Linked DNA regions of Homo sapiens. The protein of the gene in region 3 interacts with the protein of the main gene of each other region in a biochemical or structural test. Each region holds a gene or a part of one and is shown on either strand. Other genes may lie near its edges. The genes, in order: RAF1, ITCH and KSR1.

Evidence for each region.
Region 1: of the proteins of KSR1 (region 3) and RAF1, one has a biochemical effect on the other in vitro, tested with the Homo sapiens proteins (one study listed by BioGRID).
Region 2: of the proteins of KSR1 (region 3) and ITCH, one has a biochemical effect on the other in vitro, tested with the Homo sapiens proteins (one study listed by BioGRID).

What each region holds. Positions count from the first base shown.
Region 1 is NC_000003.12:12,605,028-12,608,679, forward strand, and holds part of RAF1 (RAF proto-oncogene serine/threonine-protein kinase), read right to left. Parts: intron 1,273-3,652; coding exon 1,174-1,272; intron 1-1,173. UniProt on the Homo sapiens protein: Serine/threonine-protein kinase that acts as a regulatory link between the membrane-associated Ras GTPases and the MAPK/ERK cascade, and this critical regulatory link functions as a switch determining cell fate decisions including proliferation, differentiation, apoptosis, survival and oncogenic transformation.
Region 2 is NC_000020.11:34,369,706-34,373,357, reverse strand, and holds part of ITCH (E3 ubiquitin-protein ligase Itchy homolog), read right to left. Parts: intron 657-3,652; exon of another isoform or gene 632-656; intron 1-631. UniProt on the Homo sapiens protein: Acts as an Acts as an E3 ubiquitin-protein ligase which accepts ubiquitin from an E2 ubiquitin-conjugating enzyme in the form of a thioester and then directly transfers the ubiquitin to targeted substrates.
Region 3 is NC_000017.11:27,609,833-27,613,484, forward strand, and holds part of KSR1 (kinase suppressor of Ras 1), read left to right. Parts: intron 1-234; coding exon 235-366; intron 367-1,017; exon of another isoform or gene 1,018-1,545; intron 1,546-1,661; coding exon 1,662-1,797; intron 1,798-3,652.

The DNA.
Region 1 (3,652 bases), on a different chromosome or scaffold from region 3:
CTTCCCACATAATCCTCTGTTTTATGGCTTCAGAGGCCTGGTTTCTTCTAATCTTCAGAGGTAACTACAAATTCTTGGTCAGATTTGCTTTTCAAATTATCAAGAAAAATAAAAGCCATACAGAAATATATATCCAGATATATGCAAATTCCTTATTCTAAGATATGCTGCGTTTAATATTTCCATAGTATTTTCACATTAAACATTATCTGATTACACATTATGTGTGTGTGTGTGTGTGTGTGTGTGTGTGTGTATACATAATATATTTTTTTTTGGAGACAGAGTCTTGCTCTGTCACCAAGGCTGGAGTGCAGTGGTGCCATCTCAGCTCACTGCCTACCACGTTCAAGATTCTCCTGCTTCAGCCTCCCAAGTACCTGGGCCAAAAGGCACATATCACCACACCCACCCAGTTTTTTGTATTTTTAGTAGAGATGGGGTTTCACCATGTTGGCCAGGCTAGTCTGGAACTCCTGACCTCAAGTGGTCCATCTGCCTCGGCCTCCCAAAGTGCTGGGATTACAGGTGTGAGCTACCGTGCCTGGCCTAAAGTAAGATATTTTGGATGTAGATTTTACTTTAGGTTTCAAATTCATGTGTGTTAACACTGAGCAGTAGATAAACGCAACAAAACTGATTATAAAGCTGGAAAACAGAGTAAAGAAAGACAAGTTATATGCAAACTCAGAGACACATGAGAAACAATATTTATGCTGAAAATCTAATTAAATGTTTTTAAAGACACTAGTCTATTTAAATACATGGTTTTAGCAAATGCATCGGCCACAACATGCATTTCAAAGTTAAGGGTTTTATTTTTATCAAATCACTGTATTAAGTTTTAGGACCCTTTCCATTGAGGTTGAACTCAGTACATACTGAGGAAAGCAGAATCTCAAGCTCTTTAAAATGTAATGACATATTAAGAAATATGCTATGATAACAGAAGAAGCTACAGTCAAAGTCACTTTCCAGAATGTAAGACCTACAGGTCCATAAACAGAAATTTCTACCTTTTCTGTACCACCAGTATCAAGTTCCACAGAAGCAGCAAGGGGTTTCCACGTAGAGAGGAGGGAATGCGAAGAAACTCTTATTTTTTGTCTTCAAGCTTCCAACCCCACCACCCCAAATAACTTTCTAAAAGAAAAGCTATAGGTAAAAAATTACCTAACAGGCATCCTGGAAACAGACTCTCGCATACGACGCATAGTCAAAGAAGGTAGTGCTGGGACTCCACTATCACCAATAGTGGAATTTGGAAACAATCTAAACAAAAGCAGGGAAAGACTGGTTTTTAGGCTTGCAGTAATCTTACAGAGACAATCAGCATGCCTTGCTTTTGCAAACTCAGAGCTACTAAAACTGAACTTTTCCCAGTCACATTTTCCTCAACTGTTTTACATTACCTAGAATAAAGGGAACAATATTCCAAATAACTGGATTTGAATGATTATTGAATGTGAATAATACTGACCTGCCAATAAACATACAGGCTCCTGTGTGCTTTTTCTTTTTCTTTTTTTTTAAGATGGAGTCTCACTCTGTTGCCCAGGCTGGAGTGCAGAGGTGTAATGGCGGCTCACTGCAACCTCCACCTCCCGGGTTCTCCTGCCTCAGCCTCCCAAGTAGCTGGGATTACAGGCACACACCACCATGCCCAGCTAATTTTCGTATTTTTTTTTTAATTATACTTTAAGTTTTAGGGTACATGTGCACAACATGCAGGTTTGTTACATAGGTATACATGTGCCATGTTGGTGTGCTGCACCCAGTAACTTGTCATTTAACATTAGGTGTCTCTCCTAATGCTATCCCTTCCCCCAATTTTTGTATTTTTAGCAGAGACGGGGTTTCACTATGTTGGCCAGGCTGGTCTCGAACTCCTGACCTCAGGTGATTCACCTGCCTTGGCCTCCCAAAGTGCTGGGATTACAGGCGTGAGCCACCGCGCCCGGCCCAGTGTGCATTTCTAGGAAATACTGGTCCTGTGTCTAGCTATATCAAAATAATATTTTTCAAACTACAGTATAACATTTCACAAACTATGTCACACACAGCTTCTCTGGAAACATTCCATCTTGAAAATGCATAGATAAAAGACTAAAATAGAAGGAATAAATCACAGAAAAGTGAGTAATTAGGCACCTTTTTTCCATGAGGTGGGCACTTGTGCTTAGTAATTTCACAGGTTATGTCAGCAAGCCTCATAAGAACAATGCAAGGAAGGTAATATCCCCTTTATTCAGATGCATGAACGAAAACTCAGATGTGGTTATGGTTAATGACAACACTGAGATTTTGACATATGTCTGTTAGACTCAAAAGCTTGTGCCGCCGGATGCGGTGGCTCACACCTGTAACCACAACACTTTGGAAGGCCAAGGCGGACAGATTGCTTGAGCTCAGGAGTTCGAGACCAGCCTGGGCAACATGCTGAAACCCCGTCTCTAGAAAAAATACAAAAATTAGCTAGGCATGATGGCATACACTTGTAGTCCCAGCTACTCAGGAGGCTGAGGTAGGAGGATTACTTGAACCCGAGAGGTCGAGGCTACAGTGAGCTGTGATCATGCCACTGCACTCCACTGTGGGAGACAGAGCGAGACCCTGTCTTTAAAAAATAATAATAAAAAAAAAGGCTGGGCGTGGTGGCTCATGCCTGTAATCCCAGCACTTTGGGAGGCCGAGGTGGGCAGATCATGAGGTCAAGAGATCGAGACCATCCTGGCCAAGATGGTGAAACCTCATCTCTACTAAAACTACAAAAATTAGCTGGGCGTGGTGGTGTGTGCCTGTAGTCTGAGCTACTCGGGAGGCTGAGGCAGGAGAATCACTTGAACCTGGGAGGCAGAGGTTGCAGTGAGCCGAGATCATGCCACTGTACTCCAGCCTAATGACAGAAAGAGACTTGTCTCCAAAAAAAAAAAAAAAAAAAAAAAAGGGTGGGGGACAAAAATAAGATAAATTTTAAAAGCTTGTGCCATTTGTGCTACTCAAGCTCTCATCACAAAATCAATACGTAAGTGACCATGAAAGCAAAAACATTTTCATCATGGTCTAATAATAACACTCCCTTGGTTTCTCTAGTACTGTCAAAAAAGGACAAAACTTTTAAACTTTTCATATACCTAGTTACAGTTTTTAAAAGGCAGTTTGGACCATGTACTTTTAATGTAAACTTTAAATTCTTTAATAACATTTTATCTATATGAAATATATTGTCTCCTGAAAGAAACAAGAATCTTTCAAGATTTTATATTCAAACAATTTTAAGTCCAAACAACTAAGTTTTCTCCAGTTTGAAGTGAAGAAAATAGCATCAACGGTGCTTTCTGCTCCTTCTCAATGTCAAAGGCTCATTCAGCATATTCAACAAAATACAGAGCAGTGTCTACTAGCAACCCCAGTAGATAATACTATTAAGAGCGAAAAGCAAAAAATCTTCTTGTTTTCATATCCTTTTGCTCCTTTCCTTACTGAATCACAGTCACAGTATGTCAATCTCAATTTGACAGATAACAAGTCCTACTCCTACCTGCTCATTCTGGAGTATGAATGCCACCAAACCTAGCTAGTTTCAGAATTATCACTGTTTCTAAAGTAGTTTCTGGATCACAATTCATTAAATGAGTCTAGAATCCAGACC
Region 2 (3,652 bases), on a different chromosome or scaffold from region 3:
GTTGCAGTGAGCCAAGATTACACCACTGCACTCCAGCCTGGGCGAGAACAAGACTCTGCCTCAAAAAAAAAAAAAAAATACATTTGGCCAGGTGCAGTGGCTTATGCCTGTAATCCAGAACTTTGGGAGGTCGAGGCAGGTGGATTATTTGAGGTCAGGAGTTCAAGATCAGCCTCACCAACACAGTGAAACCCTATCTCTAGTAAAAATACAAAATTAGCTGGGCGTGGTGGCACATGCCTATAATCCCAGCTACTTGGGAGACTCAGGCAGGAGAATCGCTTGAACCCAGTGGGTGGAGGCTGCAGTAAGCTGAGATTGCACCATTGCACTCCAGCCTCGGCAACAAGAGAAAAACTCCGTCTCAAAAAAAAAAAAAAAAGGAATACATTCAATCATGTTAAAGGAACCAAAAAATCTGAACTTAATTTCTTAAATTGCAATGCAATGAAACTCTTGTAACATTTACCAACTTCCTTTTTATAATAATCAATCACTGGCAAGGAAGTCTGTTTTCCTGACAAAATCCTTAAACCAGGAGTTTTATATTTGAGTACCCCTTGGAACCTAGCACAATAGCAGCTCAACAGATCCTTGTCAAATATTACAAACTTAAACTTTCTATACTTACGTTTCCTACAGGTCTCTCAGTGCCAATGTTTAAAGTAGAACTTAAAAGGCCGGGTACGGTGGCTCATGCCTGTAATCCCAGCACATTGAGAGGCTGAGGCAGGCAGATCACGAGGTCAGGAGATCGAGACCATCCTGGCTAGCACGGTGAAACCCCATCTCTACTAAAAATACAAAAAATTAGCCAGGCATGGTGGCGGGTGCCTGTAATCCCAGCTACTCAGGAGGCTGAGGCAGGAGAATTGCTTGAACCCGAGAGGCGGAGGTTGCAGTGAGCTGAGATTGCGCCACTGCACTCCAGCCTGGGTGACAGAGTTAGATTCCCTCTCAAAAAAAAAAAAAAGTAGAACTTAAAATAACATGGTTTCTCATTTATAAAGCATCAGACATTATGAAGCCTTTTTTTTTTTTTTTTGAGACAAAGTATCCCTCTGTCACTCTGTCGCCCAGGCTGGAGTGCAGTGGCGTGAACTCGGCTCACTGCAAGCTCCGCCTCCCAGGTTCACACCATTCTCCTGCCTCAGCCTCCCGAGTAGCTGGGACTACAGGCGCCCGCCACCACGCCCAGCTAATTTTTGTATTTTTAGTAGAGACGGGGTTTCACCATGTTAGTCAGGATGGTCTCGATCTTCTGACCTCGTGATCCGCCCGCCTCAGCCTCCCAAAGTGCTAGGATTACAGGGATGAGCCACCGCGGCCGGCCGAAGCCTTATTATAAGATATTTCTGATATCAGTCATATATTGTGATGTCAACAAAGCCATGAAAAATCAGTGAGTTAGCACATAAAGCACAGAATATAATAGAGTGAGCTGGAAAGAACCTGAGAAATCATATTCAAAACATTCAATAGATAAGTGAGGAAACCAGGCCCAGGGAGATTTAAGTGAGCTGCCCAAGATCACAGAATTTAAGTGACCAGTAATACCAATGGTAGAACGCAGGTTTCCTGAATGTTGGCTCAAATACCTTTCCACAAAGAACTGCTTTGTGAGCTTGAGATGAAATGGATATGCTGAGAAATATTTTAAAGATATTTTAAATACTTTAATAATACTTTTAAATATTTTTTAAATTGCTTTATAGTAGCTATCACAAATCATTCCACCATCTCCTTCCTTTCTCTTGATTATAAAAAAGAACAGGACCGGGCTCAGTGGCTCACGCCTATAATCCCAGCACTTTGGGAGGCAGAGGCGGGCAGATCACCTGAGGTCAGGAGTTCAAGAGCAGCCTGGCCAATGTGGTGAAACCCCGTCTCTACTGAAAATACAAAATTAGCCAGGTGTGGTGGGTGCACGCCTGGCCTCCCGAGTCCCAGCTACTCAGGAGGCTGAGACAAGAGAATCACTTGAACCCAGGGGGCAGAAGCTGCAGTGAGCCAAGATCGTGCCATTGCACTCTAGCCTGGGGAAGGCTCCATCTCAAAAAAAAAAAAAAAAAAAAAAAGAAGAAGTGATTTTATTTCCTTTGGATATATACCCAAAAGTGGCAATGCTGGATCATATTTTAGTTCTATTTTACCAGTATCTTCCTATTCAGTTTTTTTTTTTTTTTTTTTGAGACGGAGTCTGGCTCTGTTGCCCAGGCTGGAGTGCAGTGGTGTGATCTCGGCTCACTGCAAGCTCTGCCTCCCAGGTTCACACCATTCTCCTGCCTCAGCCTCCTGAGTAGCTGGGACTACAGGCGCCCGCCACCACACCCGGCTAATTTTTTGTACTTTTAGTAGAGACGGGGTTTCACCTTGTTAGCCAGGATGGTCTCGATCTCCTGACCTCGTGATCCACCCGCCTCGGCCTCCCAAAGTGCTGGAATTACAGGCGTGAGCCACCGCGCCCAGCCTCAGCTTTCTTATCTAACAATTCACCTGCTCAACTTCATTCACTCCCTATTCTCTTACTGCTTAACTTTATGTTCTACTTTTTTTTTCTTACCCAGTAGTCTTCCTTCTCTCCTGACCTTTTAAAGTGATCTGTCTTGTCCTCATGTTTTCCTTCACAATACTACTCTCAACTTCTCTCACCTTGTGGATCTAGATAACATTTCTTTTCTTTTTTTTTTTTTTGAGACAGACTCTCACTCTGTTGCCCAGGCTGGAGTATAGTGGCACGATCTTGGCTTACTGCAGTGTCCACCTCCTGGGTTCAAATGATTCTCCTGCCTCAGCCACCCAAGTAACTGGGAATACAGGCACATGACATCACACCCTGCTAATTTTTGTATTCTTAGTAGAGATGGAGTTTCACCATGTTGACCAGACTGGTTTCAAACTCCTGACCTCAAGTGATCCGCCCACCTTGGCCTCCCAAACAAAGTGCTGGGATTACAGGTATGAGCCACCGTGCCTGGCCAAGATAACATTTTAAGTCATGAATTCATTTCCTTTTCTAAAGATTTAATAGGTATTATTTTATTTGATCCACACAACAATGCCAGGGATGGAGACAGGAATCAATACTTACCTATTTTACAGATGTATAAACTGAGGTCTGGCAAGATTAAATAACTCGCCGAAAGTCACACAGCTTGTCAGTGGCAAAATCAAATCGGAACCCAGATCTTTTCTTTCCAAGTCCTCTATTCTTTCTGCACTGAACCATGTTGTCTTTTTTTTTTTTTTTTTCCGAGACAGGGTCTCACTCTGTCACCCAGGCTGGAGTGCAGTGGCGTGATCATGGCTTACTGCAGCCTCAACCTCCTGGCTCAAGTGATCCTCCCATGTCACCCTCCCAATCAGCTAGGATTACAGGTACACGCCACCACACCAGCTGATTTTTTTTTATTTTGTGTGGAGTCAGGGTCTCGCCATGTTGTCCAGGCTGGTCCCAAACTCTTGGGTTCAAGTGATCCTCCCACCTTCGCCCCACAAAGTGCTGGAATTACAGGCATGAGCCACTGCACCTGGCCATGTTGTCTTCTTTTTCATTACCCACCTCTTAATCCTACACATGCACATGTCTAGATAGTATACAGAGATAAACGTGTATAAAACAACACAAATAGAAAAAGTATGCATATGTATA
Region 3 (3,652 bases):
ATATTTATCCATTCTTGCCCTGCTTTTCTAGAAACAACCGGTCATGACTCCTTTGTAGAATTCCTCAAAAGCACCGGTGCCTTTCCCAAGTGCAGGGTCAGTGTTCTGGGTCTGGGTGTGTTTTCTAAGCTGTGTGTGGGTGTTCTGCCGGCCCTGGGGCAGACCTGTGCCAGGCAGGCCTCTTTGCTGCCTGCTGAAAGGCCTGTGTCCTTGTCCCGGCTTCCTGGTCTCCAGGCGTGAGAACCAGCTAAAGCTGTCCCACGACTGGCTGTGCTATCTGGCCCCTGAGATTGTACGCGAGATGACCCCCGGGAAGGACGAGGATCAGCTGCCATTCTCCAAAGCTGCTGATGTCTATGCATTTGGGTGAGTAGGCCCCTGGTGCCCTGAGGCCAAGTGTGGCCAAAACAGAGGGCCCTGGTGGCCATTGGGGGCAGAGGGAGGCATGCTTTTAGGTGTTGAAAACCCAGGCTCTGGAGTAAAAAATCAACCTTGAGTCCTGGCTCTGCCGCTTGTTGAGTGCATGGTCTTGAGTCCTGGCTCTGCCGCTTGTTGAGTGCATGACTATATCCTTGACCTGGAATAGCTCCTCCCAACAAGGTCATTTCATGAGGACTAAATCAGGTAATTGTGTGCAGTGCTTAACACTGGCTGTCAGCCCCACCCAGCTGATCTGGGAGGATGCTCACCAGAGCTGACCAAGAACTGCTCCTCCCAGTCTGGGGGAGCTGGATATCCTGCCGGCTCTGCTACCCCACAAAGACCTGGGTGCTGACCAGTAGCAATATAATGTGAGCCCGATATAGAAGTTAAAGTTTTCTAATAGCCACATTAAAAAAGAAATGGATGAAATTAGTTTCCCCTGTTTATGTTTTATATATTATAAAACGATATATTTTATTTAACTCAATATATCCAAAATATTATTTCAACATGTAATCAATATACAAATTAATAAGATATTTTATATTCTTTTTTCCTACTAAGTCTTTAAAATCTGGTGTGTTTTCTGCCTAGAGCACCCCTCCATTCAACTGTGCACATTTCAGTCACTCAGTAGCCCCCCTGTGGCAAGAGGCTCCCACATTGGACAGTGTGGGTCTGATGGAGAAAGTCCCATCCCAAGTGAAGAAAGCCAAGGGGACGTAGAGAGGCCAAGGAAGGCTCACCACCCCGGTCACCTGTGCTGTATCTGGGTATCCTTCCCAGTGGGGTGGCCTTGGCGCCATCCTTCCTCCCTGACCTTTAACTGTATCCTTTCCTGAGCACCCATGTGTGCCAGGTGCTGGGCTTGGCAATTTAGTACTCCTCAAACAACCCTGTGACAAGAGACATTAGCCCCACTGAGGTGAAGCAGTTTTACTGGGATCTTGCAGCTAGAAGGTGGCAGAGCTGGATTTGTGCTGAGGTCAGAATGACCACCAAGGCTCCGGTCAAACCTGCGCTGTCTCAGACTTCCCACCCAACGAGAGCACAGGGCCCAGGTCCTCTAGGGCTGGGAGGAGCCTCCAGGAGCCCACTGTAGCATCCCCTGAAGCCAAGTGGGTGAGGAAGGCTGGAGAAGGGTCCTGATCCTCTGGCTGGGCTATGGCTCAAGGGCCCCTGGGCTTGAGCTGGGCACAGCGGCCCAGGAGCTCACAGACATGGCTGGGTCTCTGCAGGACTGTTTGGTATGAGCTGCAAGCAAGAGACTGGCCCTTGAAGAACCAGGCTGCAGAGGCATCCATCTGGCAGATTGGAAGCGGGGAAGGAATGAAGCGTGTCCTGACTTCTGTCAGCTTGGGGAAGGAAGTCAGTGTAAGTAGTACCTGCCCTGGGTGGAGCAGTAGGGCTGGAGGTGGGGTGGGGCATGTGGCATGGCTGCCCTTCACTCACCCACCTGAGAAATGGGGTCGGTGAGGAGCTCTGCCACCTGCACGTGTCTAGCTAGAGATGAAAATGATATGCATTGCCCGGGAATGGGGAAGGAACAGGGAGGCATAAATAAGAAAATATCTATCCTCACCCCACTGCTCACCCTTTTCATTCCTTTCAGTCTTTTTTTTTTCTTAAAGATAATGGTTTTCATTGATTTATGAGATGAAAAGAAAGTAAAGCCCCATGTTATTTACATGAAAGAAGATAATTTTTTTTAAAAAAATCACTGCTGAAAATACAAATAGTTGTGCTATGCTGTGGTATTAAATCTTTCCTCATAATGTTTTTCTTGACTATTAAGAACAAATCAAAGTTTCCACAGCAAACTTGTTTTCAAAAAACCAAGTCTTAATTATAGTGGCCGACTTCTCATTTCTACATGGTTTCTCCTTAATGGATTCTCTGTGTTTGTAAGTTTTGTCAGGCTAAATAAGAGAGAGAGGCTCTCAAAAGATGTTTATTTGGAAATAGAGCGTTGCACTGGGAATATGCATGCCATGGTGAATGGCTTGCTTATTCAGGGAGGTAAAGGAAAAAATGAAGAGGATTACACAATTATTTTGACATATTTAGTAGTTTTCCCTGGCTACAGAGATGAGTAACAAGAGTGATGTCAGTCCAAGGTTAGACAGGTTGTTTGAGGCAGATGTCCTTGTAGGAGTATTTTTGTATAAGGTTGCCATGGCCTTCGTACAAGGTTGCAGTTTTTGCAGTCTTTAGTGGTAGTTTTTGTTATCAGACATACAAGCCCAAGAAGCCTCTCTTCATGGCTTTCCCAGGCCCGATTTGTCAGAGTTTTCTTCACATTTGTGACTCTCTTTTGATTCTGACAGCTTTCAGTTTCCTTTATCACAGCACAGTGATATATAAAGAAACTCCAGGGCTTGGTGTTTTCAGTGCCATCAGTGATAGCCATGTGTCCATGAATCAGATAGGATTGGGACAGAACAGCCTTGATGTTAATAAGCAACTCCAGTCAGTATTTGGGCAGCATAACAATTGAAGTCTTCAGAGGGACCACCCAGCACTTGTCCAGGCTAAGATACAAACAGGCTGTGAGCTTCTTGTTAAGGTCATGAACATTGCTGGCAGGATCACTGTCTGTCTGCAGACTCTGTCTGCAAATTTGCAGTGATGAATTCAACCTCATCGTCCTCCAAGTTCTTAATAGATGGTAATATTTTTCTCAATTGACTGGTGGCAAGCAGCTAGGGCGTCTTCAGAAGGCTCACTCAAGATGACATTATATCTGATCTACTTTATTCCACAGTAGTATATGTCATCTTGTTGAAGTGCAAAATATTTGTACGGGGATGCCCCTCCAAAGATGACACCAAAATGCTATTTAACAACACGAACAGCAGGCTCCTCTTTGGCCAGTTGATACCATTTCATCTGGGGTGCTGGGCAAGGGCCATGGGTGATGAGCACTTCTCTGACACTCTGAGGCCCGTCCTTCTTGGCCTCCTTCTGGGCCAGGGCCAGTTAAACACCACCTTCACCTTGGTGCATCCTCGGGTGCCTTAGGAGCGTGTGGTGGTGATGCAGAATTTTTTGCTCCTTAGCTCAGCTAAAATCCAGGTTCTTGTCTCATGACCAGGAAAAATTAGGCATGCGGACACATTGAAAGGTGAGGAGAGTGGAATTCATTAAAAGAAACCTCTCAGCAAAAAAGAGGGGGTCCTCCCAACAGGCTCCCATCTCACAGATTGAATATCAGGCCACCACACACGAG